Homo sapiens: one gene and its partners. The protein of the gene in region 1 interacts with the protein of each later gene in a pairwise test. Each region holds a gene or a part of one and is shown in the gene's direction. Other genes may lie near its edges. The genes, in order: TTC23, MIPOL1, GRIPAP1, POLR2J3, TRAPPC6A, ADCY4 and TRIM10.

The links.
Region 2: the proteins of TTC23 (region 1) and MIPOL1 interact in binary tests that used the Homo sapiens proteins (3 or more experiments, as listed by UniProt).
Region 3: the proteins of TTC23 (region 1) and GRIPAP1 interact in binary tests that used the Homo sapiens proteins (3 or more experiments, as listed by UniProt).
Region 4: the proteins of TTC23 (region 1) and POLR2J3 interact in binary tests that used the Homo sapiens proteins (3 or more experiments, as listed by UniProt).
Region 5: the proteins of TTC23 (region 1) and TRAPPC6A interact in binary tests that used the Homo sapiens proteins (3 or more experiments, as listed by UniProt).
Region 6: the proteins of TTC23 (region 1) and ADCY4 interact in binary tests that used the Homo sapiens proteins (3 or more experiments, as listed by UniProt).
Region 7: the proteins of TTC23 (region 1) and TRIM10 interact in binary tests that used the Homo sapiens proteins (3 or more experiments, as listed by UniProt).

Annotation. Positions count from the first base shown.
Region 1 is NC_000015.10:99,218,320-99,222,748, reverse strand, and holds part of TTC23 (tetratricopeptide repeat protein 23), read left to right. Parts: intron 1-884; coding exon 885-1,008; intron 1,009-3,700; coding exon 3,701-3,851; intron 3,852-4,035; coding exon 4,036-4,161; intron 4,162-4,429. UniProt on the Homo sapiens protein: Participates positively in the ciliary Hedgehog (Hh) signaling.
Region 2 is NC_000014.9:37,263,361-37,267,789, forward strand, and holds part of MIPOL1 (mirror-image polydactyly gene 1 protein), read left to right. Parts: intron 1-1,846; exon of another isoform or gene 1,847-1,921; intron 1,922-3,577; coding exon 3,578-3,809; intron 3,810-4,429.
Region 3 is NC_000023.11:48,995,190-48,999,618, reverse strand, and holds part of GRIPAP1 (GRIP1-associated protein 1), read left to right. Parts: intron 1-114; coding exon 115-181; intron 182-319; coding exon 320-381; intron 382-1,438; coding exon 1,439-1,465; intron 1,466-2,261; coding exon 2,262-2,369; intron 2,370-4,429. UniProt on the Homo sapiens protein: Regulates the endosomal recycling back to the neuronal plasma membrane, possibly by connecting early and late recycling endosomal domains and promoting segregation of recycling endosomes from early endosomal membranes.
Region 4 is NC_000007.14:102,565,993-102,570,039, reverse strand, and holds the end of POLR2J3 (DNA-directed RNA polymerase II subunit RPB11-b2), read left to right. Parts: intron 1-115; coding exon 116-205; intron 206-1,855; coding exon 1,856-2,030; intron 2,031-2,956; coding exon 2,957-2,989; 3' UTR 2,990-3,074; downstream 3,075-4,047. UniProt on the Homo sapiens protein: DNA-dependent RNA polymerase catalyzes the transcription of DNA into RNA using the four ribonucleoside triphosphates as substrates. Component of RNA polymerase II which synthesizes mRNA precursors and many functional non-coding RNAs.
Region 5 is NC_000019.10:45,164,624-45,168,454, reverse strand, and holds part of TRAPPC6A (trafficking protein particle complex subunit 6A), read left to right. Parts: intron 1-3,260; coding exon 3,261-3,328; intron 3,329-3,484; coding exon 3,485-3,602; intron 3,603-3,831. UniProt on the Homo sapiens protein: May play a role in vesicular transport during the biogenesis of melanosomes.
Region 6 is NC_000014.9:24,331,680-24,336,587, reverse strand, and holds the start of ADCY4 (adenylate cyclase type 4), read left to right. Parts: upstream 1-1,516; 5' UTR 1,517-1,935; coding exon 1,936-2,094; intron 2,095-3,599; coding exon 3,600-3,797; intron 3,798-3,904; coding exon 3,905-4,066; intron 4,067-4,650; coding exon 4,651-4,800; intron 4,801-4,908. Other genes in the region: RIPK3 (receptor-interacting serine/threonine-protein kinase 3), read left to right, coding at 193-413. UniProt on the Homo sapiens protein: Catalyzes the formation of the signaling molecule cAMP in response to G-protein signaling.
Region 7 is NC_000006.12:30,154,720-30,159,032, reverse strand, and holds part of TRIM10 (tripartite motif-containing protein 10), read left to right. Parts: intron 1-403; coding exon 404-634; intron 635-1,641; coding exon 1,642-1,664; intron 1,665-1,978; coding exon 1,979-2,094; intron 2,095-3,273; coding exon 3,274-3,306; intron 3,307-4,313. UniProt on the Homo sapiens protein: E3 ligase that plays an essential role in the differentiation and survival of terminal erythroid cells. May directly bind to PTEN and promote its ubiquitination, resulting in its proteasomal degradation and activation of hypertrophic signaling.

The DNA of each region.
Region 1 (4,429 bases):
TGGGATTACAGGTTTGAGCCACCACGCCCAGCCTGGAACCGTGTTTTAAAACTGCCAGCTCTGCTTTGAGGATATGGCTGCTCTGAGATCACCTGGAGCTGGGAATCCAGTTTTCTGTTCTTTTTGTCCTATCCCTGAATGAAACTGTGCTTCTTGCTGCTTTAATCAAGTCTGTAAGTCCTGCTGATCTCATTTGCTATGCTAGTGCAGATGGCTAAGGAAAGTTTTGAATTGAGAGCTAAACTATAGTATTTGACAGCCTGGGCAACATGGCAAAATCCCATCTCTACCAAAAATACAAAAAACTAGCCAGGTGTGGTGGTGCACACCTGTGGTCCCAGCTGCTCAGGAGGCTGAGGTGGGAGGATTGCTCGAGCCCCCTGGAGGTCGAGGCTACAGTGAGCTGATATCGTGCCATTGTACTCCAGCCTGGGTGACTCCAGGTGAGTGAGACCCTGTCTCATACACACACACACATACACACACACACAAAGTGTACTATTTGAAAACACTACCATTTGCCCCTGTTGTGCCTGCATATGTAGTAGCTGTTCATTGGTGGGCAGCTGGGAAACCTAGAGAATGACTAGATGTCTGCTCTACTTTTTCTATTTTTTAAATTCTATTTCTTTTTTTCACCCTTAAATGTACTATAAATTGTACTTCTTATGTTTATTGTCTGTTTCATCTTACCAGATGTACATGCTACCACCCCAAATAGATCTTTGTCTGTTTTGTTCTCTGATACATCTCAAGTGCTTAGAACAATGTTTTGCACATAGTAGTCACTCAGTATTTATCAAAGGGATATAAAAGCGCATTGATTTTGTGTTTTGTGACTCTTAAGTTGTATAACTGGTAAGCCTGTTTTCTCTTCCTAACAGTACAAACAGGCCGTCCATGAGCTTGTGCGTTGCGTAGCACTGACAAGAATTTGCTATGGAGACTCACATTGGAAACTAGCAGAGGCACATGTTAATCTGGCTCAAGGCTACCTCCAGCTGAAAGGTAAGCTCGCCTTAGACTGAGGGGGATCAGTTGGTCGATTTCTGCTGTTCTCCCCAAAATTTGATTCACACTTAATTAGAAGGATCAGGTTTTTTAATATTCTCCTTTCTAAATACCAAGAAGCCATTTCTTTTTAGAAAGAGTTGATAAGGTATATAACCTGTAAACATTCAAAGGGGAAAAATGGAAAAAATATTTTAACTTTTCTGGTTTTTTTGTTTTTGTTTTTGTTTTTATGATTTCAAAAGTAAGGTTCTTAGGAGAAAATTAATCTGTTGGGCCAGAAGACTTTGTAGGAAAAAACCCAAGGTATGGAATAGGGGCCCAGAATGGGATCCATTCACACTTTTATTGGAGAATCTCTTGACTGTAAATAACCAAAAAATTTAAAAAGACTAACCCAAATTGGCATAAACAAAAGTTTTTGGCTCATACAACTTAAAAATTCAAGGGAAAAAATTTTTAGACTTAGCCATATCCAGTGTTCAAACAATGTGACCAGGATTCAATTTTTCTCTCTCCCACTGCTTGGCTCTGTTTTTCTTGGTATTTGCTCCATTCTTTGCCAGGTTTTGCCCACATGGTGGCAACAAGACTGCCTGCAACTTTAGACTTCCCTTATAAGCATTCCCAGGAGGAAAAGAATGTCCCTCCACCAAAATCCCGGGATTTGGGAAGGGTTCTAATTGGAACAACTTGGGTTGTATACCAAAGGCAAGGAATAGTCTGATTGGCTAAACCTTTCTTTTGGCTTCATTGGATCCTGAAGGAGAAGCAGGCCTTCGCCACATCTCATGGATTGGATGTGCAGGAGCCAGGCATCCCAAAAGGGAAACAGAGGGGAGAATGCGTGCAGGGGAGGCAAAAACAATAGACACCCAGGATATGATGATGGCTTCTACTTACTGACTGTGCAGCCTAAGACAAGATGGACAAGAGCATCTCTGTGCTCAGCTTCTTCAGCTGAAAAGTGATGATGATGGTAATGGTGATGCTAACTTTCCAGGGTTGGCCCAGTGAATAAAGAAAATAATAGAAGTGGAAAACACCAAATGCCAAGCATATTCTATACCAAGCGTATTCATTATTGCCACCCAATAAATTTGGCCAAATCTGATTATAGACTGGTCCTACCTATTAGATCAAAGGCTCTTAGGGACCTTGGAGATTATCTAATTTAAACTCTGCCCTCCCACCCCATTTTGTAGATTCAGGGAAAACAATGAGTCTGAGTTAGAACAGCTTTCCCCATACCACACTGTTAATAAGTAGCTGATCTGAGACTCAGACCTAGGTTTTCAATGCCAGTTTGTCCTGCCATCTGGGGTTTCAGACGATGCTTTTCTTATACAGCCTGCTGCCTCTCTGCGTGACAGTCCTTCTTTCTCAATTTAAAGTAAAAGTAGTATCTACCATTTATTAAAGTCTCATTTGGTGCCAGGCATGTTGTTTTCCATGCATAACCTTATTCAGTCCTCACCACAGTCCTCAAAGGTGGGTATTTTTAATATCCCTGTTTACAGCTGAGAAAGCTGAGGCCAACGTTTTATAATAAGTGGTGGAGCAGGGGATCCATCCTGGGCAGTCTGACTTCAGAGCCAATGTTCTTGAACTTCACCCTATGCTGCCTCCAGTAAATTGAGTTCAGGTTCCTTCAGGGACTCGACACAGTTGAAAATACAGTCCAACATGCTTTGTGTAACATCACAAGCACAGGTGGCACTAATACATGTCTGTGCTTTTTAAAAATATGTAATAAGACAATCTTGTGTAAGAATTCCCACATGAAACACATACCCTTGATTTTCTCCATTAGAAAATATATTCTTCCTGTTTTATAGACATAGGAACAGAATTAACTTCATATTTTGACAGATTTTTTTAGAGATCTAAGATACAATTTTGTGTAACTAAGAACATAAGATGGGGGCTGTGTGTATGTGAGTGGAAGTGGTTGTCGGTGTAGGGGAGGAGGATGGGAATACAGGGACGTGCAAAGCCCTGAAGCCGTGCTAGCGATCTCAGTCCTCCCTTCCCACAGATTAACAAGCCCGTGGAGGAACACTGGAACACACTGGGGAATTCTTTCTTAGTAGTGATTTTTTTTTGCTCCACTTTGTTTCATATTAGTCTCTTACCACATAGGAAGATGAAATTGTCACACATTAATCTGTTACCTCACTGGAATTGTGTTTGTAAGTTTTTGTAGATATCAGATATGTATTATGTTAAAAAAATAACTCTCTGACATTATGATTATAGGTGGGTGAGCTGAAGATTCAGAATTTTTAGTATTTCATTAAGATTGCAGTTACACAGCCAGGATTAAAATTCATGAATATTTTATTTCCTGCTCAGAATGCTATAGTTCTTGTATTCAGTTTGTTTCTTATAATTATATGTAACATATTTTGCTTCTGCTATTGGTGAGGTTTCAAAGCTGTTCAATTCCAGCTCATTTTGTTTATTTCTAAAAAGGCCATTTGGGGGAAAATTTATCTTGGGTACTTGGTATAAAACACTTCTTTGGTTGTTACAGTCATGGCAGTGTTTCATGCTGCCCAGATACGTCTCCATGTGTCATTTGACAATATGTGAAGGAGACCTTGTTAGATTCCCAGACCATAAGGAACTGTATTCCTGTCCAGTTGAGATGATAGAGAAACTGAGACCTCTTTTTCTTTGTCCACAGGACTGTCACTGCAAGCAAAACAACATGCAGAAAAAGCCAGACAAATCCTCGCCAACTCCATTGTGCCTCCCTATAGTGAGAATACAGATGTTTTCAAGTTTTCCATTGAGCTTTTCCATACCATGGGCAGAGCTTTACTCTCCCTTCAAAAGTATCCTTTTGCCTCTAACTTTTACAAATAGAAATACTATTCACGTAACACTTACACGCCAAGTAAAAAGCTGATGCTGATGGATGACTTAGGAAGTGTGATTGGAAGTATGGGAGCCAAGGAAGTTCAGGACATGGGGTGTAGAATCTAGAACCAAGTGGAAAATTTCCTGAACACAATTCAGATTTAAGGAAGCTGCAGAGAATTTGACAAAAGCAGAGAGACTTTCAAAGGAGCTGCTACAATGTGGAAGAATTATAAAGGAAGAATGGATAGAAATTGAAGCACGGATCAGATTATCATTTGCACAGTAAGTTTCAAGTTTAGGATTTTGCATACATGATGGCGGGAGGCTCTTTGCCTGTAGAATCTGTCTCAGGTAGGAGGAGCATCTCCATGAGGCTGCGGCCATGGCTTCTCTGGAGGTCACTGTGTAAAAGTAAAAGAGGAACACAGTCATGTCAGAGCAGCCCCAACCAGGGCATCCATCAGTGACACTTTTCACTCTCTGTGGAGTGCCCTGGGTCCCAGAGTTCTGATCATTATTCTCTTGACTTTCGTTTTACCTGCTCTCCCTC
Region 2 (4,429 bases), on another chromosome or scaffold:
ATTCTATGCCTAGATGAATAAACTGTCTAGCAATAGCAGTAGGTGGCATTTTAGGGTAATACCTAGTAGTAATCCATAATATCATTTTTCAGTTGATAGCAGGATAACTTTATGTGGTAGTGATGGTATGAGACAGTAAATGCAAAAGTTGGGAATTATATTTGGTTTGAAGTGGTCGAATTCTTATGTCTAAATAAAACAGTGTGCCCACAGAAAAGCAAATGAAGAGATTGATAGTAATCATACATTTTTTCCTGTTGTTTAACTCTGAGAAAAGAAAGTCAGACTTCATAACTTTTGAATGATGAAGAAGAGATTGACAGTTTATTCTTTAAGTCCATATGGATAAATGAAGTTGAATAGTATTAATTCAGTTAGTCATAATGTTAGAAGAGTTAACAATGACACTGATTAAACACTAAAGTGGATTACTAAAGAGAGTTTCCGTTTCAAACCATATGAAAGAGATAGAGGAATCAACAGGATGGTTTTAGGTTTAAGTTTTCATCTGCCTAGAGATAAGAGTTTGAATCGAAAGTGAATATCTTTCTGTTTAACATTTGTCTTATCTTTTAAATTGACTAATATGCAAAACAGACCAATAGCTTCACTTTAATGGCATTTTATTGGCTTGTGTTTATATTTCTGTATGCAGTTCTTTTTAAAGTGATGGGGCAATACAAATAAGCTCAGCTAAAGCTCTTAGTAGCTTCGTCTCATTATTGCTTCATAAAGATCCTTCTCCTGGGCTGGAGAGTTTAGGGAAAATAACTGAAGTCTGAACTTAGAGTTACTAACTGCTTTCATCTTCTCTTGGTTAGAAAAGGTACTAATTCAGAAATAAATTTGGGCTATGAATAAGGTAAAGAAAATTAGGCAAAATGCAAGATGATAGAGCAGTATCTTAAAATTTGTCTTGAAAAGTCAAAGTGTTTCATGCCTGTTGCTTACTCACTAATGTTTCAGAAAAAAAAAAATTGTAAGGTCAGGCATGGTGGCTTATGCCTGTAATCCCAATACTTTGGGAGGCAGAGGCAGGAGGATTGCTTGAGCCCAGGAGTTTGAGACCAGCCTGGGCAACATGGCAAGACCCCATCTCTGAAAAAAAAAAAATTAGTGAGGCATGGCAACACAGCACACAGCTGTAGTCTCAACTATTCGGGGGGCTGAGTTGGGAAAATTGCTTAAGCCCGGGAGGTCAAGGCTGCAGCGAGCCATGATTGTGCTACTGCACTCCAACGTGGGTGACGGAGCGAAACCCTCTCAAAAAAAAAAATTGTGTAGATAGTTATAGAAAGAATGGTTAATAAAGCAAGCATGATAAAATGTTAATATTTGGGGAGTCTAGGTAAAGGGCATACAGTAATTCTTTGTTTTGCAACTTTCTTATGAGACAAATTATTTCAAAATGAAAAGGTACAAATGAAGGATTATCTAATGTCAGTTTTTGTCGGCTTTCTCATTTAGCTTGCTTCTGCAGTCATTGAAATCTTTGATGTTTGGCTCTCATTTCTTCTCTCCATTTTCTGCCATTTTTCTGGATGACTTCAATGCCTTCAAAGGTGGTACTTTCAGCACTTTGACTTTTTGATTTTCTCCACTCCAAGTATGTTCACTTTTAATTTATTTCATCAACTCATTTCCAGATGAGCCATACCTTGGACTTTGTCCTTAATACTGATTTTAGAAATTTTCTTCCGACTATAACATCTTGTCATTTCAATACAAGAAATGTCTCTTCATTTTTCCTAAATTTATTTCTTCTCCTCTATATCTATTCCTATTCTTCCTATTTTTATAGTCTATTAACTTTTTATTTCATCTAACTCTGGCTATCCTTTGGCAGTTTGCTACTTCGCATATCCCTACTTGACCTTTTTTGGAGCAAATGCCTTTGTGAAGTCTTCCTAGAGTCTTCCAGGTGAGCATTAGTATGTCTAGCATATTGTATGTATTTGGCCTCCATAGCCCAAGCATAGTCCTTATTATACTGTATTCAGATCATTAGATGAGTTTGCCATCCTCACTGTACTAGAGAGTCTTTGAGTGGAGTGTTTGTTTCTTATTCATCTTTGTTTTCCCAGTAGCTACCACAAGACATACCACACTGTAAGTTTTCAATGAACGATCAGTAAATTAATGAATAAATAAATTAGAAGAGTCAAACTTTTTATACAAATGTTTGAATACTAATATAGTGTAACGCAGGATGGCAGAGAGGAGAGCATTGAAAGCCTTCAGAGGATTTAACATTGATTTGCTGGAATCATACTTGCCAAAATAGTTGGTCAAAAAAACAAGACAGGCAGGAAAATTTTTATAAGTCAGCCATGTGTATTCTAAAGTAAAATTAAATTCTCAGACTGGGAGTCTGAGGTGGGAGGATTGCTTAAACCCAGGAGTTTGAGGCCAGCCTGGGCAACACTGCAAGATCCTGACCTAAAACATTTTTTTTAAATAAATTTTCAGTAGAAGAGTATGGATAGTCTGATTTGCAGAGCAGGCTCCAAATTTCTGATGAGCCTTTTGAAATAGAAATCTGAAAGCTTTTACTACTGAACAAAATGAGAAATATCCAGAAATAGAGCCATGTCACACAGTATGGGTTCTTTAAAAATATTAAACATTTATAATTAAATTTTAGAATGGAAGTCTGGAGTGTGTCAGAAATTGATGGATTTATTGTAATAAAACTTCAAGGGGTTATAATTACTAAGACCCAGGAGGGATCAACACAGAGTCTTCTTATTAGGAAGCTCTTATTGGGAAGCTTCTGCATCTCCTCTAAGATTGAAGAAGATAGTGTGGTCACAAGTTAAATAGTGGTAATTTATCAAGAGTTCAGGGGATCACAAAATTTCACATTAGGTTAAAGCCAAAGAAAGAGAACTATAAAACTAGTAAACAACCATTTACATTTGACAGTTTTAGGAACAGATACATCTGAAGATTACTTGTTCATTCTTGACAGCTCAAAATGCTTACTTGGTTTGCATTAGATGGTCACCATGCTAGTTTTCTGTAATAGGCTGGCATTAGTATAATGAAACTCTTAAAATCTGAATGACAAAAGTTTATAAACGGGCACTAAGGAAAGCCTCTATATCATTAACAGACCATGCTTTCTAACACTAACATAACATTGTAAGTAACTCAAATGAAAAGCAATCAGAAATAGTTACTGAAAGCATTATCAAAATAACAAACATTGCCCCTAGGGACATATTTTTAAAAAACTCTTAGGCCCCACATTCTTCAGTTTATGAAGTGCCATATTTCTTCAAAAGGAAAAAGGATGGTCCATGGACCACTGCCAACTATAAAAGCCCCCAGGTCCCCATGACAGCCCCACAACTGCTTCAGACTCTTAAGTCCCAACTCTTTTTGGCCTATTTGAGACCAAATTTACCATTATCTACAACTTATCCCAATGCTTATCTGATTACAGTAGGAGTAAGACTAGAAACTATATGTTTAAAGCTAAAGAGTGTTTCCAAAAATATTTATTTGACTGAATGATTTAATATGCAGTTATGGTGTTTAATATATCATGTGTTATTTGTTTGTTTAAATACAGACATAACCCACAGTTATCTTGAACAAGAAACTACGGGGATAAATAAAAGTACGCAGCCAGATGAGCAACTGACTATGAATTCTGAGAAAAGTATGCATCGGAAATCCACTGAATTAGTTAATGAAATAACATGTGAGAACACAGAATGGCCAGGGCAGAGATCAACGAATTTTCAGATCATCAGTTCTTATCCAGATGATGAGTCTGTTTACTGCACTACTGAAAAATACAAGTAAGTGCTCACAGCCTTAGATTTAGAAGGAATTGGGGCCAGGCGTGGTGGCTCATGCCTGTAATCTCAGCACTTTGGGAGGACGAGGTGGGTGGATCACTTGAGGTCAGGAGTTCGAGACCAGCCTGGCCAACATGGTGAAACCCTGTCTCTACTGAAAATACAAAAATCAGCCAGGTGTGGTGGCACATGCCTGTAATCCCAGCTACTCAGGAGGCTGAGTCATGAGAATCGCTTGAACCTGGGAGGCGGAGGTTGCAGTGAGCTGAGATTGTGCCACTGTACTCCAGCCTAGGCAACAGAGCAAGATTGTCTGAAGAAAAAAAAAAAAAGAGAAAGTTAGAATTGGAAGAACTTTTTCTCCCTCCCTTCTTCCCTTTCTTCCTCTTTCCTTCTTTCTTTTTGGTGTTGGCTAATTCTAAACTTATTAGAACTTGGCGAATCTACCAGGGTTTTCTACTGTTTCCATGGTATGGATATAATATGTCTAGTTAACTAAGTGAAAAAGCACAAAGTGCATCTGAAGAAAGACAGGTTTAATTCTATTTTATTCAATATTATTTTCTGTGACCTTTCTTTATGTATTTGGAAATAACTGTTAAATTGATATACATGACATA
Region 3 (4,429 bases), on another chromosome or scaffold:
TACAGAGGCACATGGAGGGCGTAAGGTCTGTGGAGCTTAGGGGCTTGGTTCCCTCATGGTAGGGGTAGGGGCGCTTTCCTGACCAAGTCTTTTCCCTTCCTGCCTCCCCCAAAGGCTCAGCTCCTGGAACTCCGGACAAACAACTACCAGCTTTCAGATGAACTACGCAAGAATGGTGTTGGTGAGCCAGGAGGGCCTTATTAGATGGGGGTGGCTTTGGGGAATGGTGTCCGAGGTTTTCCCTCAGAGGCCTGGCAGGAAGGCCTTTCAGTTTCTTGCCACTGGCTGAGGCTGAGTTTCCCTGCTTTCCCGACACCAGAACTCACCAGTCTTCGACAGAAGGTCGCCTACTTGGATAAGGAGTTCAGCAAAGCTCAGAAGGTACCTCCCTCCACCCACCCATCCACCTACCCATCCACCCTTGCTTCTACCTATCTGACTCATTCATCCCTCCAGTGAGCACCTACAGTGAACCAGACCTAATGTTGCATGCTGTTTTCACGTAGTCATTTAAAGGATTCTCAATGGAATTCTCTTTAGTTGCTAATTTTACCTAATCCTGCTTAATTTAGTGATTAATTTTAATTTACTTTTAATTCATTTCTAATTTCAGTTACTCATTCTCATTCACTGACTTTTAATTAAATATTCAAATCTATCAGTAAATCTACCTCGAATCTGCCTCCCATCCTCTACTCACACTCCTGCCTTGTGCTCCTACTTCCCATCTCTGTCCTGGTCCAGTTGGGAAAATGAGAGCAAACCCACCTCTCAGATCCTCTAAAGATGAGATAGGATATAACCTATTGTGGCCCCTCAAGACATTCGAGGTGCTCCTTTGTCACTGCTCTGTCCCCATATCTAGCCATACCTAGCACAATGTTAATACATAATATGTGCTCAATAAATATTTGTTGGATGAACGAATACAGTATGCAGAAAATCCGACAGTCAGGAAGCTGCACTTCTCTTTGGTAGGATGCTGATTCCCCTAAGCTGGCAATGCTCTTGGCTGCCCAGTAGGGGAGCGACAGTTTCCACACTGCGTGGGAGGGACCCACAGAGACATGTATGGACAGATGTAGCAATGAAGCCACAGTTTCTGAGTCTGGAGATCCAGCCCATAAATGGTTAAATACCAGGGCATCTCCCTACCTCCCCTGTCCCCCCACCAGCCTCAAGAGCTTCCAAGAAAGGATGATTTATGTGTGCTGGGGCCCCAGGGCAAGACTTGCATTCATTCACTCACTCACACACTCATTCCATCATTCCTTTGGGCTCCAAATTGTCACACATGTTCTGTGGTTGAAGATGCTCCCATCCTGCAACCCCTGTCATCCTTGTCCTCCCAAAACGCTTGGCACAATTGTCTCCATATCCTAGTAAGGCAGTCCATCTCTGTTCACTTTAGCTCTCTTCCCACCCACCCCCACTTTAGGCACTGAGCAAGAGCAAGAAAGCTCAGGTAAGGGGATCCCTTGTGGGTGAGTGTGACTGGGAGATGTCTTGGTGGGCTATTTCTGTATGCTGATATTTCCTTGTACTGGCCTTTCTTTCTTTGTGTGCCTTTACATCTGCTACTACCTCACTGCCATGTGTTGCTGTATCTGTCCTTGTTTCCCTGTATTTGTCCTAACTCTGTGTCTCTTTCCTTCTCTCTCTTTCCATTCTTTTCTCTGAGTCTCTTTCTGTCTCTGTCTGTTTTCCTGTTCCTGTCTCTCTGACTCATTTCTCTTCCCAATCTTCTCTTTGTCTCTCCCCCTCCTGTTCCTGTCTCGGTGATTTCTCTTTTTTCTGCTTTCTCTCTCTAACTCCTTGTTTCTTCCACCCCATTCCTCTCTCTTCCTAACTCATTTCTTTTCCTGACCCCTCCTCTTCTCCCTGTTCTGTTCTCTCCCTGTTGATTTCTGTTTGTTCTTCTCTCCGTCTTTTTCACTCTCTCCCTCCCAATCCCTCTCCCCTTTTCTATCTCTCCCCCTTTCCCCATCTCTACTTCCTCTCTCCCCAATCATTATCTTCCTGTCTTTTCCTCCGCTCTCTTCCTCCCTGTATTCCCTTCTCTCTACCTTCCCATGTCTTTATCTTCCTTTCCCTGTCTCTCATTTTATCCCTCCCCATGTCTCTTTCTCCTATATCACCTCATTCTCTGTACCCTATGTCCTCTCCCACCCATGTCATTTTCTCCCTCTCTCTGTTTCTTTGCCCTACCTCCCTATCCTTTTTGCCCTTGCTGGAGTCCTGGCCCTTGTCTGCCACTGCAGGAAGTCGAGGTATTGCTGAGTGAAAATGAGATGCTGCAGGCAAAGCTGCACAGCCAGGAGGAGGACTTCCGTTTGCAGAACAGCACACTAATGGCCGAGTTCAGCAAGGTGCTGGTGCCTGGGATAGTCAAAGGGGAAATGAGGGGTAGGGGTCATCTGGGCTGAAACCTAACAGCGGCAGAGAGTGATTGGACAGGGTCTGGCCCTGGAGCACTGTCCGTGGTGCTGAAACAGGTCCTGGATTGCTGCTGGGGGGCAGTAATTTGACAGATGGGGCCGCTCACTCTGCTGGGATTAGAAGGCTTTGAGCCCTGAGGTCACCTGGTTCCTGGCCAAGTCACTCCTTTTATTTGAGCTTCAAGTCTCCATGTGTATAATGTGGGGTTGATGCTGTGGTGCTCCAAGGTGTTGGGGGGTTTTAGGCAGAGTTCTTATGCTTAATATAGGATGGAAAAGTGTTCGAGCTTCTTCCCTTTTCTCTTTCTTCTCTTCATCTGACATGAGCCTGGGGTTCTACCTCTTCCAGATAATTCATCCTGGAGCTACTAATTCTATCTCCCCATTGATTTTAGTGTCCTGTCTGTTTCTAAATCTACTGGGCAGTTGGAGACATTGTCTTTTGTTCCCTCATCTATCTTCTGTATCCACAGTTGATAATTGTCTATGTTTTTAGTGTGTTTTAAGGAAAAAAGTCTCATGGCAGCAAATTTTTTTGAGATGGAGTTTCACTCTCATTGTCCAGGCTGGAGTGCAATGGCATGATCTCAGCTCACTGCAACCTCTGCCTCCTGGGTTCAAGCGATTCTCCTGCCTCAGCCTCCCAAGTAGCTGGAAGTACAGGCATATGCCACCATGCCTGGCTAACTTTGTATTTTTAGTAGAGATGAGAGAAAATGACATGGGTGGGAGAGGACATTTAGTAGAGAAAATGACCATGTTGGTCAGGCTGGTCCTGAACTCCCGACTTCAGGTGATCCACCCGTCTTGGCCTCCCAAAGTGTTGGGATTAAAGGCGTGAGCCACCGCGCCCGGCCCAAAAATGGTATTTCTAAGGCTCCATCTGAGAATATAGTGCCTATGACCTTAAAAAAACAAAACCGAAAATAACCTTTAAGCAGGTACAATACCAGGAGAGGCAGTTGAGCAAGTAGTAGGTACCAGCAGGGACTCTGGAACCAGAAGGCCTAGATTAAAATCTTGGCTCTACCTTTTACTAACTGTAACCTTGAGGAAGTTACTTAACTTGCCTGGTTCTTGGTTCCCAAATGTTTAAAATGGAAGTCATGATAATAACAGTACCTGCCTCTTCACAGGGCTTTTGTGAGGATTAAATGAATAAATGTACGTAAATCACTTAAAACAGAGCCTTGCACATAGTATCAGCTATGGAAGCATTAGTTATAATATTATCCTTCTATTAACTCATCTTCCCTCTAAAATATTTGACTTTTTAAAAGTTTTATGGCCGGGCGTGGTGGCTCAGGCCTGTAATCCCAGCACTTTGGGAGGCCAAGGCAGGCAGATCATGAGGTCAGGAGATGGAGACCATCCTGGCTAACGTGGTAAAACCCCGTCTCTACTAAAAATACAAAAAATTAGCCGGGTGTGGTGGCACGTGCCTGTAGTCCCAGCTACTCGGGAGGCTGAGGCAGGAGAATCGCTTGAACCCGGGAGGCGGAGGTTGTAGTGAGCCAAGATTGCACCACTGCACTCCAGCCTGGGCGACAGAGCAAGACTCTGTCTCAATTTAAAAAAAAAAAGTTTTATATCCACCCTGTGGCCCTGCTTTGCCTTAGCCTCTACCACTTATCATCTGCTGTTTCTACAGCCGCCTCCCTGGTCTCTTCACTTCTAGTTTCTTCTACTTAGTTCACACCACAGAGGCTGTTCTGACCTGCAGATCTTATGACATCACTCCTTTACTTAATACATTCCAGTGCCCCAGTCCTGCTCCTAGTTCAGAGCCCCTGGTATTCACATAACTGCTGGCTTCACTGACTGACTCCTCACTGCTTCCTGCCTCCAGCCTCCATGGTATCATGATTCTTGCAGAGTGAGGCAGGGGCAGACATTCTTCCATAAATCCAGCTTGTTTCCCTGCATCTGCCCTGGGCCAGCACTGGGCTAGTCGTAGAGACTTCCTACATAGTCCCCTTCCTCCTCCAACT
Region 4 (4,047 bases), on another chromosome or scaffold:
GTGTTGGGATTACAGACACGAGCCACCACACCTGGCCGGGAGGAGACAGGGTTTAGACTCAGGGTGGGAGGAGGGGAGCCCCTGCTCCTCATCTGTGGCCTCTGTGTCTTCCTAGGATCACCATTAACAAGGACACCAAGGTACCCAATGCCTGTTTATTCACCATCAACAAAGAAGACCACACACTGGGAAACATCATTAAATCGTAAGTTTCCCGTCACAGGCTCTCAGGGGCTATGTTTAATGGGCCCCTCTGGGCAAAGCACAAGTTCCAAGTCTTCCTCAGTCTCTCTGAGCTACAGGAAGTCCTTCTGGGGGCTTGCTCTGGGCATTTTATAATCTTGGTACCTTTTTATCAAAATGACACCGACCTCCATGTCTTCACATAAGCCACACTTCTGTAGTGGCTTATTCTGTAGATGAACACGTGCATTTACATTCACTGTTTGTTTGTTTGTTTGTTTTTGAGATGGAATTTTCTCTCTTTGTTGCCCAGGCTGGAGTGCAATGGCACGATCTTGCTCACTGCAACCTCCGCCTCCCGGGTTCAAGTGATTCTCCTGCTTCAGCCTTCCTAGTAGCTGGGACTACAGGCCCACGCCACGATGCCCGGCTAATTTTTGTGTTTTTAGTAGAGACGGGGATTCACTGTGTTGGCCAGGCTGGTCTCGAACTCCTGACCTCAGGTGATCCACCTGCTGGCTTCCCAAAGTGCTGGGATTAGAGACGTGAGCTACTGCGCCCGGCCTTACATTCACCATTAAGTGCACATTCTGTAAATGAACGAGCAGCAGATTCCAGCACAGTAGGCCTGTTTGTTATTCATGCTGAGGGACATTGAAAAGCAGTCAAGATTAGCTCCCCTCATGCCACCCGTTTGTGACCTCAGTGCCACCTGGGCCTCTAAGATGTATGTGGCAGAGACTAGAACTTCTATTTAACAAGAGAAAGAAGTAGGAGTTCTGTGGCTATCCAGTGCCCCTAATGGGCACCCTGCATTGGTTGGTGGGTGTTTGTTTATACCAGTGAGGTCCTAGCCAGGTGGTTGGTCAGGGATGTGTCTGCCATTCTGGCCCAGGGACTTGCCATTTTACTGTAGACTTGGCTCTTCCCTCTGGTGCCACCAGCGAAGCCAGGCTTTTCCCCGTCTGTGAGTGGGGTCTGCCCAGTCTCCTGGTGTGGTCAGGCACGGGGATGGAGGAATCCTGCCCGGAGCCCAGCCAGTGGGGCACCCAAGCTCTCCTGGGGCCCTGCTGCTCCCCTGCTCTTGAGCTCAGTGTTGCCACCTATGCACGGGTCCCCCTTGTGGTGCTCACGCCACTCTGAGCCACTCTAGAGGAGACCCCTGCATGCCCAGGGCACAGTACGCGATGCAGCCCCATGGCACAAGGCCCAGTGTGCGTGGCCAGCCGCTGGCGGCTGTGCTGCTCGGAGGGCAGAGTTCCATTTGCATTCCACTCACTGCCGGGAGCTGGCCCTCCTCTCCTGCTGCCTTTATTTGCTGCGTGGAGGCTCTTTGTGGGCTTTTTGGGTCTGAGTCACTGAACACTGGCTGGACATTCACTGCCTGGGAGATCTCTTTGCCAGCACTGCGGTGCCCGGTGGGAAGAGGTTGCTGGAATCTCTTTCCAGCTCGGGTCCTTCAACCTCATGGATGCAGAGTGTGTGTGTGTGGCGGGGATAGGGTGTCCCCACATGAGGTATCTTCCTAAAAGTGTTACTTTCCTTGAAGACTTTTTGGGAAAAAAGTTGGGGGGGATTTTTGGCTAGAAAGTCTGTTCTTCTGCTCTGAGCTGGCTGCTACCCAGCTTGGGCATGAGGCTAGACCCTCACACTGTCTGTCCCTGGACCTCAGACAACTCCTAAAAGACCCGCAAGTGCTATTTGCTGGCTACAAAGTCCCCCACCCCTTGGAGCACAAGATCATCATCCGAGTGCAGACCACGCCGGACTACAGCCCCCAGGAAGCCTTTACCAACGCCATCACCGACCTCATCAGTGAGCTGTCCCTGCTGGAGGAGCGCTTCCGGGTGAGGGCGGGGCCTGGAGGGGCAGACGGGGTGGGCTGGACACTGGCCCGTGTGCCCAGGCCTGGGACAGCCCTGGCCTGTTTCTTCGGAGGTCCTCAGGGAGAGGCGGCGGTGATGGAAGAACAGGGACTTCCACCACAGGCTCCAGGACATGTGGACTGAGGGGCTGTGGAGTCTGGGCCTGTGGCTCCCGTCTGCCCCATGGGACTTCTGTAGTGCTGCAGGGTCCCTCGGGTGCTGTGGGCCAGATCCGGGCGGGGACCTACTGTCCTTTGGGGGTGCTCTTCTACGTCCCTTGTCGGTGATTGGCAAGGCCTGGTCCTTCCAGGCCTCTGGGAGGCAGCTCACCCCAGGGTGGCCCACACCTGTTCCTAGCAGGGCGCCTGGGAATCTAGAACAGTTTAGAGGGGAAAGAGCCACAGCAAAGAAAAGCCGAGGCAGGGTGATCACGAGGTCAGGAGTTCAAGACCAGCCTGGCAAACATGGTGAAGCCCTGTTTCTACTAAAAATACAAAAATTAGCTAGGCATGGTGGCATGTGCTGTAGTCCCAGCTACTCGGGAGGCTGAGGCAGGAGAATCGCTTGAACCCGGGAGGCGGAGGTTGCAGTGAGCCGAGATTGTGCCACTGCACTCCAGCCTAGGTAACAGAGCAGGACTCCATCTCAGTCAATCAATCAATCAATCAATCTCAGCGGTTGAACTACCCTTGACATGGTTCAGCTCTGTATCCACACCCAAATGTCATGTCAAATTGTAATTCCCAGTGTTGTGGGAGGGACCTGGTGGGAGGTGATTGGCTCATGGGGGCCGACTTCCCCCTTGCTGTTCTCGTGATATTGAGTGAGCGCTTGTGGGATCTGGTTGTTTAAAAGCGTGCAGCCCTCCCACTTCACTCTCTCTGTCTCTCCTGCTCCAACATGGCCAGACGTGCCTGCTTCCCCTTCGCCTTCTGCCGTGATTGTCAGTTTCCTGAGGCCTCCCCAGCCACGCTTCCTGTACAGCCTGCAGAACTGTGAGTCAATTAAACCTCTTTTCTTCATAAATTACCCAGTTTCTCATAGTTCTTTATAGCAGTGTGAAAACAGACTAATGGACCCTTCTGGTTGAAGGAATGCAGCCATTCTGCTTGTTTGACTATGTCCTTTCTATTCATCTCTATTTCCTGGGAGGTGTTTATCCAAGTGCAATAGGAGGTATTGGTGACCGCACAGTCCCCTCAGTGTTCTGCTAGTAAATAGTTGAAGGTTGATCATTGATCTTCTGCGTTTTCAGTCTGGCATGGAAAAGCCCCTGTGCAACTGGTAAAGATATCAATAAGCACCAGGAGGTATCTAAATCCACCAGGAGCCATAGGCATCACGTTGACATCCATTTACCAGTCTTCCCTGGCAAGATTCTTCTGAATTGTGCTGCCTTGGCCAAAAGAGGTATGGGAGGGGCTGGGCGCAGTGGCTTGTGCCTGTAATCCCAACATTTTGGGAAACCAATTCAGGTGGATCGTTAGAGGTCAGGGGTTCAAGACCATCCTGGCCAACATGGTGACATCCCATCTCTACTAAAAATACAATAAGTTAGCTGGGTTTGGTGTTGGGTGCCTGTAATCCCAGCTACTCGAGAGGCTGAGGCAGGATAATCGCTTGAACCTGGGAGGAGGAGGTGGCAGTGAGCTGAGATCGTGCCATTGCACTCCAGCGTGGGCAACAAGAGTGAAACGTCGTCTCAAAAAATAAAAAAAAGGTCCGGGCTTGATGGCTCACACCTGTAATCCCAGCACTTTGGGAGGCCAAGACGGGTGGATCACGAGGTCAGGAGTTCAAGACCAGCCTGGCCTAGATGGTGAAACCCTGTCTCTACTAAAACTACAAATATTAGCTGGGCATGGTGGCATGCACCTGTAATCTCAGCTACTCAGAAGTCTGATGCAGGAGAATTGCTAAAACCCAGGAGGGAGAGGTTGCAGTGAGCCGAGATTGCACCACTGCACTCTAGCCTGGGCGACAGAGCAAGACTCCGTCT
Region 5 (3,831 bases), on another chromosome or scaffold:
GCCCTGTGATGGGATGGCGTTCTGTCCAGGGTCCATTCCTGCTTTTGGCCCTGCCAGGACGGGCTCTGGCCACCCAGGACCCTGAGCTGGAGGAAGCGAGTAAATGTCTTACTGGTTTTTTGTTTTTTATTTATTTTTTAAGACAGGGTCAGGGCCGGGCGCGGTGGCTCACGCCTATAATCCCAGCACTTTGGGAGGCCGAGGTGGGTGAATCACGAGGTCAGGAGATCAAGACCATCCTGGCTAACATGGTGAAACCCCGTCCCTGCTAAAAATACAAAAAAATTAGCTGGGCGTGGTGGCGGGTGCCTATAGTGCCAGCTACTCAGGAGGCTGAGGCAGGAGAATGGCGTGAACCCGGGAGGCGGAGCTTGCAGTGAGCCGAGATTGCGCCACTGCACTCCAGCCTGGGCGACAGGGCGAGACTCTGTCTCAAAAAAAAAAAAAAAAAAAAAAAAAAAGACAGGGTCTTGCTGTTGCCTGGGCTGCAGTACAGTGGCATGATCATGGCTCACTGCAGTAGCGACCTCCTGGGCTCAGATGATCCTCCTGCCTCAGCTTCCCAAGTAGCTGGGACACGGGTGCATGCCACCACACCTGGCTAACTTTTGTATTTTTTGTAGAGAAGGGGTTTCGCCATGTCGACCAGGCTGGACTCGAACTCCTGGACTCAGCTGGGCGCGATGGCCCACGCCTGTAATCCCAGCACTTTGGGAGGCCGAGGTGGGCAGATCACCTGAGGTTGGGAGTTCGAGACCCGCCTGGCCAAAAGAGAAGAAACCCTGTCTCTACTAAAAATACAAAATTAACCGGGCGTGGTGGCTCATGCCTGTAATCCCAGCTACTGGGGAGGCTGAGGCAGGAGATTCACTTGAACCCGGGAGGCAGAGGTTGTGGTGAGCTGAGATCGCGCCGTTGCACTCCAGCCTGGGCAACAAGAGCGAAACTCCGACCTCCCAAAGTGCTGGAATTACAGGAGTGAGCCACTGCGCCCGGCCTAATCTTTCTTAAACGTATGTATAGCTCACATTTATTTCAGTGTTTAATATTTCAAGTGTTTTCATCCTTATTTAGAAGTTTGGTGATGTGTTTGTACCAGAAATATGGCATTGGAACTTCACTCTTGTTTATGTTAATTAACCTGCGTGAAATTGGTTTCATCATATGTCATTTTGCTTAAAGCCATAGTTTCCAAGAGCCTGTTGACAGCATTAGGTAAGGACTTACGGTGTCCTTTGTTGATGCACGTTGTCTCATCAGCCAGTCTGTTAAGCACCACCCACATGCCAAGCTCTGTGTTGGCTGCTGAAGGCCGGATGTGAATTGGTCAGCCTGGGTCCCCACCTTCACAGAGCTGTGTCCTCATCCAGGGACAGTGTGCAGTGGGCAGGGCTGGGGACGCAAGCTGGGAGGGAGGAAGGGAAGGAAGTCGGTACAAAGGCTCAGAAGTCTGAGCGAATGTCCTCAGGGGGCAGAGGAGAGGGTGAGGGAGGGATGGAGGCAGCTGGGCCCGCAGGCTGCAAGAAGCCTTCCTCGGACACGCTCTCCAGGCTGGGAGACCCGCTCCAGGGCTGGAGCCAAGCAGAGAATTCGCATCCCCATTCGGATGGCTGCGCTGATGGTGCAGCCCTGGAGGGAGGAGGCGGTAGCTGCCATTCCCAAGGGAAGGTGGGGGTCAAGGGCAGGAGAGGGAGGGCTGCAGGGCTCAGGCCTGGTGACTGCAGGCTCCTGAGAGCAGCCAGCGGGAGGGTGAGCTTCCTTCAGCTCAGGGCTGCACACCTGCCGCCTCTGTTCCCCCACTTCTGCTCTGCCAGGCTTTCTCTGAAAAACCTGGCGCCTCACGCCCCAGCCGTCCTGGGATTTCTGGTGCCCCCCAGTCTGGGCCTCCTCCCTTCCTCTGCTTGCAGCAAAACACCCGAATGAAAAAAAAAAAAAAAAAGATCCATGGCCAGGTGCAGTGGCTTTTGCCTGTAATCCCAGCACTTTGGGAGGCCAAGGCGGGCGGATCACTTGAGGCTAGGAGTTTGAGACCAGCCTGGCCAACATGGTGAAACCCCATCTCTACCAAAAATACAAAAATTAGCCGGGTGTGGTGGCACACAGGCCTGTAATCCCAGCTACTCGGGAGGCTGAGGCAGGAGAATTGTTTGAACCCGGGAGGCGGAGGTTGCAGTGAGCCAGCATTGCACCACTGCACTCTACCTAGGCAACAGAGTGAGACTCTGTCTCCAAAAAAGAAAACTCGCCAGGCGCGGTGGCTCACGCCTGTAATCCCAGCACTTTGGAAGGCCGAGGCGGGCAGATTGCCTGAGCTGAGGAGTTCGAGACCAGCCTGGGCAACACAGTGAAACCCTGTCTCTAATGAAATACAAAAAATTAGTAGGGTGTGGTGGCGTATCCCTGTAGTCCCAGCTACTCTGGAGGCTGAGGCAGGAGAATTGCTAGAACCCGGGAGGCGGAGGTTGCAGTGAGTCAGAGATTGGGCCACTGCATTCCAGCCTGGGCAATGAAGCTAGACTCCATCTCTTAAAAAAAAAAAAATCCATGAGCATCTCCTCTCCTCCAGCCATGCCCTCCACACACACAGGCACGTGGACAGACACCGAGTGCAGCCCTCCTACCTGGGGCCTGCCTCTGCCAGCACAGTCCCCTCCTGTATGGACCCTGGCCTACCCTCCAGACACTACATGGCAGCCACTGTCCTTTTCGAGCACCCAAACGAAGATCTGCCTGTCCCGAGCTTCCACGTGTTCCCCAGGGATCTTGGCCAATATTATAAGGCATGATGATCATGGTTGACTTCCACAGCCCCCTTTCCTGTGGCCCAGCCTCCAGCCCTTGGGCAGGTCACCTGGAGCATCTTGGTGGAGTCGCAGCGCCCACTTCCCAGGGCATTGTGAGGGTTCGCGCTGAAAGCACGTGCAGCCTGTCATGGGGGTTATCAGGAAAAGTCATGGAGGAGGAAGGGAGCCTGGGGAAGACCCCCATTGTTCCTGAGGGAAGGGGGAGCTGGTTCTTGGGGGCTGATGATCTGGGGATCCAGAGAGCCTGCAAGGTCTGCAGAGGTGGGTGAGGGAGCCCCAGCACCCTAGAGGCCTGCCCCTGCCCTGGCCGGGCTGTGCCAGAGCCCCTCCCTGCTCACCCCTGAACTGACGAGCACCAGCAAGTTGGTCTTTGGGTCCCCTGGCAGGTCCCCCCCTGGGTGGCCCCGGGTTCGTGGTGGCTAAGGGCCCCTGAGCATCTCTCCCCTGGCCTTCTAGGGACAGAAGATGAGCCTGTCGGTCCTGGAGGGTATGGGGTTCCGTGTGGGCCAGGCTCTAGGCGAGAGGTGAGCGCGGCCCCTCCTGCTCTCCCCCAGCCTGGCTGGCAGGGCTGGGCAGGCCCCGGGCGGGGAGGGTTGCATTGCTCCATGCAGGAGTCGGGCCTGTCTTCCTCCCTCTTCCTGGCCTGGCCCCACGGCCTCAGCTTGGTACTGCCCCACCAGGCTGCCCCGGGAGACGCTGGCCTTCAGGGAGGAGCTGGATGTCCTCAAGTTCTTGTGCAAAGACCTGTGGGTGGCGGTGTTCCAGAAGCAGATGGACAGCCTGCGCACCAATCACCAGGTGGGAGCACCCCGGCCTGCCCGTCCAGCTTCCTCCTGAGGGCAAGACCAAGAGAGTGGGAGGGGAATCCCCCGGCGCCAGAGCAGCGGCTGCCGGGACCCGCCCAGAGCTTTCCCACAGGCGGCCGCAGCTCTTGCTCTGTCTGATCCTCTAAGGGAAGCCAGGAGGCTGCGCTGGGGCATAGGGGGTGTTTCCGGAACTTCTCCAGCCTACCAGGAGTGAGCCATGC
Region 6 (4,908 bases), on another chromosome or scaffold:
GGTCTCAAATGTCAATTGCCACTCTCTAGAGCTTCTGCTAACACAATTCTGGAGAGGAGCTCTGAGGGGAGGAGCACAGGGCACACCTTGACACAGCCACTGACAAGTAGAGACTTCATACTCCCCACCCACCCCCAACTTGGCCTTTCTGACAGCTAAACCCTCCTGCCACCATCACTATTTCTCTTAAAGGGCGACCGCTCGTTAACATATACAACTGCTCTGGGGTGCAAGTTGGAGACAACAACTACTTGACTATGCAACAGACAACTGCCTTGCCCACATGGGGCTTGGCACCTTCGGGCAAGGGGAGGGGCTTGCAGCACCCCCCACCAGTAGGTTCGCAAGAAGGCCCTAAAGATCCTGAAGCCTGGAGCAGGCCACAGGGTTGGTATAATCATAGCGGGAAATAAAGCACCTTCCAAGCTTGCCTCCAAGAGTTACGAGTTAAGGAAGAGTGCCACCCCTTGAGGCCCCTGACTTCCTTCTAGGGCAGTCTGGCCTGCCCACAAACTGACTTTGTGACCTGTCCCCCAGGAGTCAATAAACATGATGGAATGCTAGTCAGTCTGAGCTCAGCCAGGGGCAGGGAGGGACTGGGATGGGGGTGGGAGCTGCCAGTGAGGGATAGGGAGGCACCACAGCTCTGCTATGGCAGGAAGTGGGGATGCTGGGGGCTGGGAGTGGGCAATGGCCTGGCACACAAGGTCAGGGCACAGCCGGCTACAACAGGAAGGAATCCTAGAGGCCTGGTTCCCCAGACCACTCTCTAATCTCAGGGCAGTGCTTCCTCTAAAGCCTAGGATGGCGACCCCACCCTAACCCTAAACTCTGGGGATAGAGGCTGTGGTCCCTTTTCTTCCGGGCTCTCAAGACTCACTTGCAGGGCTCTGGCGAGGGATGAGTTGATGTGAAAGATCACAGACCTGGCCCCGCACGGTGCCCCCAGGCTCTTAGAGATCATGACGCCACATACCTGCCTCCACCACACACTCAGGTTGCTTCCTGGACATTGCTTCCCTTTTGATTCCCAGTTGCTGTTCGGGAGTGGAAAGCTATGGCTCCTAAAGCTATACACAGGCGCAACCCCTCCCACGGAGCATGAACAGTTCAAACCCGGTGGTAGTGGTTGCCAGCCAAGCGGAGAGGTCAAGAGAATGAGCGCCCCCAACTCTGACCTAGATCCCCACCAGGACCCACATTCTTCCCTACATTCTCGCCAGGCTTCAGCCCCCCGCCCTCGGTCTCCCCACTACCAAACGTTCACCTCCATTTGGACACATCCCATTGGGTCCACCCCAGCCCACCCCTTCGCATCTCTCCCAGGGTCCACATTGCCCTTCCCTGAAGGGGCTGAAGCGGGGAGGCGATGGTGTTAGGAGAGACAAAACCAAGTGCGGGAGGAGACCAGGGGAGTCCGGCTTTGGCACAGGAAGGGGCCGGGCTGTCCCGTCGGGGAAGTGGGAGGGGGCCGCGGCGCCGGGAGGGAAGCGCCTGTCGCCCGGGACTCTGAGCCAGAGCGCAGCGGCGAGCGTGACTCCGCCATCAGGTCCCCGGCTCCCTCCCCGGACCTAGCCCACTCCGCTGCGCCAGCGCCGCGGGCAGTGAGTTCGGGGATCAGGGGAACCCGGGGCTCCCTCGCACCAACCCCAAATCCTGCCCTCCTGGCGATGAGGCTTTTCTAGGGCACCTCTACAATCCGGGTTTGAGGGAGGAGGAGGAAAGGACTGAGGGATCCCCTCATCGCCAGCTGGGAGCGGGCTGGGAGGCCGCAGGGAGGGCCTGAAAAAGGAGACGGGATTGCCACGAGGTTGGGGGCGCGGGGTGGTAGCGGCTTTGAGCGGGTGAGAAAAGCTCAGGTGGGGCCCGCCGGGCCGAAGGAGGTAACCCGGCGCCCGGCCCTAGCCAGCCCCGGGGCTCGGGGCTGGGGAGATCATGGCCCGCCTCTTCAGCCCCCGGCCGCCCCCCAGCGAAGACCTCTTCTACGAGACCTACTACAGCCTGAGCCAGCAGTACCCGCTGCTGCTGCTGCTGCTGGGGATCGTGCTCTGTGCGCTCGCGGCGCTGCTCGCAGTGGCCTGGGCCAGCGGCAGGGTGAGCCGAGCCTCTGCTGCGGGAGGGTCTCTACCTGGGGAGCATTTTCGGGGTTGGGGTTTGTGGGGTCTTCTTTTCGATGTGTTTTCGTTGCTGGGAGCAGAGAAAGAAAGGACCATTGAGCCTGGCTAGGAACTGCAGTGACCCTGGGCAAGTCACTCTACCCTTCTGGGTCTGCTCAGGGAGAAAGCTGAGTCCTGGATGCTTCTCGTTTCTGTCCGGGTTCTGACAGACTTTATGAACATCCGTGGTCTACGGGTTCTACAATAAATCCATCACCGGATTTTCCAGTTTTCCAAAGGGGAAATTCTAGGAGGCCCCTGGGGAATTCATTTCCTGCCTTTCTCTCCCTCTTAGGGGATGTAGAGCAGTTGTACCCACAGACTCCCAGAAGGCACCCTCCACCGGGCTCTCACTGAGTCCCAAAGTAAACCCATGTCCAGTTTCTGTTTGGGGAGGAAGAAGGTCTTCAATCCAATTCTAGAAATGGCCTGCCCCTGGTTTTCTTTTCACTGCTTGGAGGCAAGGTGGGAAAATCACCGGGCGCGGCCAATCCTTGCTGGTCCACGCCTAAATCCGGGAAGAGGTGGGGACAAAATGCTGGGACGGCTGTGCAGCTTCTGCTTGGAGTTGAGGCAGGTGGCGAGATCGCAGCCCTGGTGGCCAGGGAGGTGCGGGACGCCGCGGGTCCTGGCGCCCCCTGCTGCTCGAGCGCTGCCTCGCGCCGCCCTTCAAGCTGCCGGCCGCGGTCCCCGGCTCCGGGAATCTCCCGAGCAAATTGGCCAGATTTGGAGACATTCATTCCGAAGTGCCTCCTTGTGAGCTTGGATCTATCTTTCACTTGCTTCATGACGCTTTGGTTCCCGTTTGACAGATAAGAAAACTGAGGCTCAGAAACAAATAGGGGATGGGAGCCAGATCTTCTGGGTAGCTGTCCCAGCAAGATAATAGGTTGGACAACAGGAGGCTGGGCGCTGTGGCTCACGCCTGTAATCCCAGCACTTTGGGAGGCCAAGGCGGGAGATCGTTTGAGCCCAGGAGCTCGAGACCAGCCTGGGCAACTTGGCGAGACCCTGTCTTCTACTAAAAATACAAAAAAAAAAAAATTAGCTGGGCGTGGTGGCGGGAGCCTGTAATCCCAGCTACTCGGGAGGCTGAGGCATGAGAATCACTTGAACCCGGGAGGCAGAGGTTGCAGTAAGCCGAGATCGCGCCACTGAACTCCAGCCTGGGCGACAGAGCAAGACTCTGTCTCAAAAAACAAACCAACCAACCAACAAAAACCATACGAGACTGCTGAGTCTAGATAAAAGCAGTAGGACACAAGCAATTTCAAATGGTTCAACCTAAAGTGAATGGCAAGCGGAGGTGCCTTGCCTCCTTTTCGTACTTAGGCTTGAGACACCTTTCAGAACTGGGCTGAGGGGCTGGGCTGCTGGCTTTTCCTTTATCAGGTTCGTTCCTTCTCCCTGTCACAATCTTGCCTCACACACCCCTGCCCACAGGAGCTGACCTCAGACCCGAGCTTCCTGACCACTGTGCTGTGCGCGCTGGGCGGCTTCTCGCTGCTGCTGGGCCTCGCTTCCCGGGAGCAGCGACTGCAGCGCTGGACGCGTCCCCTGTCCGGCTTGGTATGGGTCGCGCTGCTAGCGCTAGGCCACGCCTTCCTGTTCACCGGGGGCGTGGTGAGCGCCTGGGACCAGGTGAGAGGGGCGGCAGGCGGGGCAGCGGGGACGGCCCGGGCTTCGATCCCTCACCAGGCCTTGAATAGCCCCACTTGGGCCTTCGGCTTCCCGCGCCCCGCCCCCAGGTGTCCTATTTTCTCTTCGTCATCTTCACGGCGTATGCCATGCTGCCCTTGGGCATGCGGGACGCCGCCGTCGCGGGCCTCGCCTCCTCACTCTCGCATCTGCTGGTCCTCGGGCTGTATCTTGGGCCACAGCCGGACTCACGGCCTGCACTGCTGCCGCAGGTGAGCACGCAAGTAGCACAGGCTGCGCTCAGGACGGCTCTGCCACGTGCTAGTAGGCTCCTTTTAGGGGGTTGTTGAGCTGTGACTCCAAGTCAAGGTGCAACGCTGGGCGCAGGATACCCAACCGTGCTTTCGCAGAGCTGGTACAACAGTGTGATGCAATGCCTGCTGTTACCAGAAGAGGGATCCAGGCCACACGGAAGGGAGTCGTGTCGTGGTTTACCCCGGGGACAACAGATGTGGTTAATGAAACCTTGACAGAGAATGAAAAAAAAAAAAAAAAAGTTTTGTGCGATGGGAGTGGGTAGCGACAGTGGAGTGGTATTCCAAGCACAAGAAACCTACCTGCAAACGTTTCCAGACCTAAGAGGTCGTGTTGGTGAAGCAGCCGAGAGTCTGGAGGAGGGAGCATCTGGGAAGGGAAACGTCCCTAGGGATGCCACAGTGTGGCACCACTTGTCCCACAATAGTTAGGTCCCTCACTGTAAAGCCCAGTCTTCCCCAGCCAGTCTTTGAGACCAACTCCAACTACACACGACAAGCACCCGGGTCCCGCGCCCTCTGAGGCTGGCCTTCACCCACAGTTGGCAGCAAACGCAGTGCTGTTCCTGTGCGGGAACGTGGCAGGAGTGTACCACAAGGCGCTGATGGAGCGCGCCCTGCGGGCCACGTTCCGGGAGGCACTCAGCTCCCTGCACTCACGCCGGCGGCTGGACACCGAGAAGAAGCACCAGGTCAGCCGGGCCTAGGAAGGTCAGAGCAGCGCTCCGAGGGAGGAGTTGCTTAGATTACATAACGGGGCTCCTCCACAAGTTGAGTGACTCTGGGCAGGTTTCTTGACC
Region 7 (4,313 bases), on another chromosome or scaffold:
TGACACTAACTCTATGACCTCAAGCAACTCTCCAACTTCAGTTTACTTATCTGTAAAATGGAGAGTAAAAATCATCATGACCTCATTGAATTACTGTAAGCATTAAATGAGATTGTGACTGTAAAGTAGCTCAGGGCTGTGCACATAATGTGCTTTTCATACAAGACAGGAGGTAGGGTGTCCCCACCACCTCCTCCTACACCTCCTGTAAGCCCTACCCCTTTTAGAAGCTGCAGCAGATGGTGCTGAGACAACACTGTGAGTCTTGCTTCTCGAAATGGGATGACAAGTGAAAAGGAAACCATGACACAGTTCCAGATCTACCTGGGGACAGGGGAGGAAGAGGAGCAGAGGGAGAAGGAGGAAGCAAACTTTCTCTTGGGCTTGCCTCCTGCCCCCTCAGACTCAGGTGTCCACCAAGAGACAACAGGTGATTTCTGAGTTCGCACACCTGAGGAAGTTTCTAGAGGAACAGCAGAGCATCCTCTTAGCACAATTGGAGAGCCAGGATGGGGACATCTTGAGGCAACGGGATGAATTTGATTTGCTGGTTGCTGGGGAGATCTGCCGGTTTAGTGCTCTTATTGAAGAACTGGAGGAGAAGAATGAGAGGCCAGCAAGGGAGCTCCTGACGGTGAGGCCTGAACCGGAACCCTGCCCCACCTGTGCTGTCCTGTGACTCTTGCATCTTTGTCTTGCCTAAGCCATGTCTCCCTGACTCACACATCTCTGTATCCCAGATGGGAGGTGGGTCAGAGGACCAGAAAGTCTCAATTCTAGTTCATGCTTTTCCAAGAGTTCCCTGGTCACTTTTTGCTCTCTGGTCTCCACCTCTCCGTCCCACCATCTGCCAAATAGGGAAGATACTTTCCTTAAATATTTCACAGGGCTTTTGTGAGGATCCAACAGTAAGATGGAAGTGAAAGTAGCACTTTGAAAAAGTATTAAGTAAGTTGCAAACCATTCTCTATAACCTAAATGTCACCAACCACCAGTCAGGAAGTTTGTCCTGGTCTATTTCACTTCCTCACACTGGAGGAGAGGTATTGGGGTCCCCACAAAGTATTGGAAAGGCAGCATGACTTAGAATGATGCTCTTAGGACTGAGAAACAGGAGACCTTGGTATGAGACTTACTTTGCCTCCAGTGAGCAGGGGAAGGTCACTTCACCATCTTTATCTAAAAAATAAAGGCTTTGGGCTCTGATCCACAGAGATGGGTGAGTCCTAATGCTCTGTGACTCTATGCATCTGGTATCCTTTTCCTGTCCAGGGCTAGAAATATATTTTGTCTTTTCCAGTCATAAGAAAAGTGGGAGGAGCCTGGGCAACATAACAAAACCCCATCTCTACAAAAAAAAAAAAAAAAAAAAAAAGAAAATTAGCCAGGCATGGTGACAAACACCTGTAGTCCCAGCTACTCAAGATGCTGAGGTAGGAGGATCCCTTGAGCCCAGGAGGTTGAGTATGCAGTGAGCCATGATCACGCCACTGTATTCCAGCCTGGGCACCAGAGTGAGACCCTTTCTCAAACAAACAAACAAGCAAATAAAAAATAAATAAAATAAAAGTAGAAAAAGAAAGGAAAGAAAAATGGAAAGGAGAAGCTGGAAACTGAATTTCTGGTATCTCTTTCTCCTAGGACATCAGAAGCACTCTAATAAGGTAAGCAATATAGTTTCTCTCTTTTCTTTTTCCATATAAATATACATACATGTACTGCATGCCTAGTTATTGCCACACAGGTATATAACATTCTCACTTAAGGATACAAATTTACATATAAACCTCTATATACCCAAATGCCTTCTCAGGTATATCCATAGATGCCCAAAAATGGGCAGTGGGATTCATCCTAGAGGAAGTACGTCTGCCTGCAGGAACTAGCGCCATCATGCCCTATTAGAAGATGACCAGCTGAGTCTGGAGACATTATTAAGGATGATAATTCCCAGACCCAGCCATTTCTGTGCCCCTAGATGTGAAACCAGAAAGTGCCGGAAACCGGTGGCTGTGTCGCCAGAGCTGGGCCAGAGGATTCGGGACTTTCCCCAGCAGGCCCTCCCGCTGCAGAGGGAGATGAAGATGTTTCTGGGTAAGAGAACCCCAGGCCTCCACAGAGCGCAGGTGGCCATGAAGCCTGGGTTTAGGAGTGGCCTCCACGCTCCACTGCTGAAAGGTGTGACTTTGGCAAGCCTTATTCCTTCCTGTGCCTTGATTTCCTTATTTGCAGATTTTTATAAAATCTGCCTATTAGGATATTGTGACAATGAAGAAAGAGAATAAAGGTGAATATTTCTGGTGAAAAAGTTAAACTGATTTTAAAATAATTCAACAAATCTGATTAGTGGTCATTAAGCAATATGAAAGATAATGATTAACAATATATCATTCTTAATAAGTTAAAAAATCCCACAGCAACATTTGTAATATGTGATAAGTTTTTGATGATGAACATTGTTAATTAATAGCCAACAACAGTATTTATCTTGACCCTGTGGTATCTGGCTCGTCCCTCCTTCCTTCTCACTTTCTTTCTGTTAGTCTGGCTCAGAGTTAGACGGTCCTACGGGGACTGTGCTCCACTTCCTTTTCCGGAACAGGGAGTGGTGGTAGGGTGTGGGGGAGGGTTTGGATGAGAGTCAGGAATGGGACATGGCTCTCTGCCAACCACCTCCTCACTAACCATGACAGAATGAATGATGACACCAATTTTGAAATGACCCACCCACAGTTATGTCACCCTAGAAGGACTTTTCCCATAATTCCATTTCCTGCAAATACTTCCAGTGACCTGTCAGTGAAGGAAATTTCACTCTAATCAAAGGCTGACCTTTGACTCTCCCCAAAATTATTTCCAAGTGGAATAATAAATAAATGAACCCATTTCTCTATTCACTAAGCAGATATTTCTTGAGCATTTACTATGTCCTGGGCTCTGCGGGTACAGAGGTGAGCAAGGCAGTCATGGTCCCTGTTTGATCAGGGCTAGGGCAGTGGGGCTCCCACCAGCAGCAGCAGCTGCATTGCCCAGGAAATTGTTAGAAATACAGATGTTCAGCTCCACCCCAGAGCACCTGAATCTGAAACAGATGTGTTTTAACAAGAGCTCCAGATGATTCTGATGCAAGCTTGGAACCACTGGTCTAGAGGATTCCAGCTTACATTCTTCTTCTTGTCCCTTCCCTCTTCTTGGCCTCAGTTTTCTCATCATTAAGTGTCTGATGGTTTTGTAAGACTAATAAAATCTCATCCTGGTTTATTTTCTTTACAGAAAAACTATGCTTTGAGTTGGACTATGAGCCAGGTAAGGAGCCTATGTCAGGATGGGAGAGAATGAGAAGTCCTCGGAAAGGAGAGAAAATTTTGCAGGATTTGCACTATGACTATGTTATGACTATGACAATAGTCATAACAAACACCCATGGATACATATACACATCATATATATTATATATACACATATGTGTGTGTATATAATACATGTGTGTATATATAGGTTGTGTGTGTGTGTGTGTCACATTGTTTGTAAGGCTCTCAGGAGAAACATGAAGAAAGGACAAGCACATACACATACTACATTCGTGGTATGAAGCTCACATCCTGATCTGCGCATGTCGAGTAGATAGAAAGATTAATGCAGAATGGGATAAAGTCCATCTGGGAATGCTTTCTGGATAAAGGGGACTTTGATCTGGGTTTATAATCACCTCTTTAGAACGTAAGGAACCCCTGCTTCCTCTCAGATGTCATTTCACAGATGACAGAAGGAGGGCGGCCTGTGGGTGGGAAAAAAATGAACAGAATGGACCCCTTCAAGGCTGTCATTTCTCAATCAACCAGCCTAAGACCCTGGGAGTCACGGAGTTGTTGGAGGGGGTTCTCTAACCCACAGATGGACCTAAATTTATGGAAGCTTCTCAATTTATGAATACTAAAAGTAACAAAACGCAAGGCTCTGCAGCAGTTTTTGGTGGTAAAAAGTGGTCCTCAGACTCTGACAGTTTCAGAATTACTGAGGCAGAGTGAATAACCCAGGGGTGAGCCAGAGAGCCTGCCAGGAGGGAAGACTGTAAATGAGTCACCAGTGCCCTGGGAGGAAAACAGGGAGGAATCATGAAGTTTGGACTGAAGGGAGAAATGTCGCTGCACTGTGGGATAGAGATGGGAGGAGGGGAGAATGTGGTATATCAGCCCCAGGAGATCCAAGCTGGCACGCACAGCTTTGGAAACCAGCCAACTTGCGGTGAGCAGAAGAGCTTTCCCGAGGACCACACTGAACTAAACGAGAGCTTTCACATCCTCTGAGGCAGG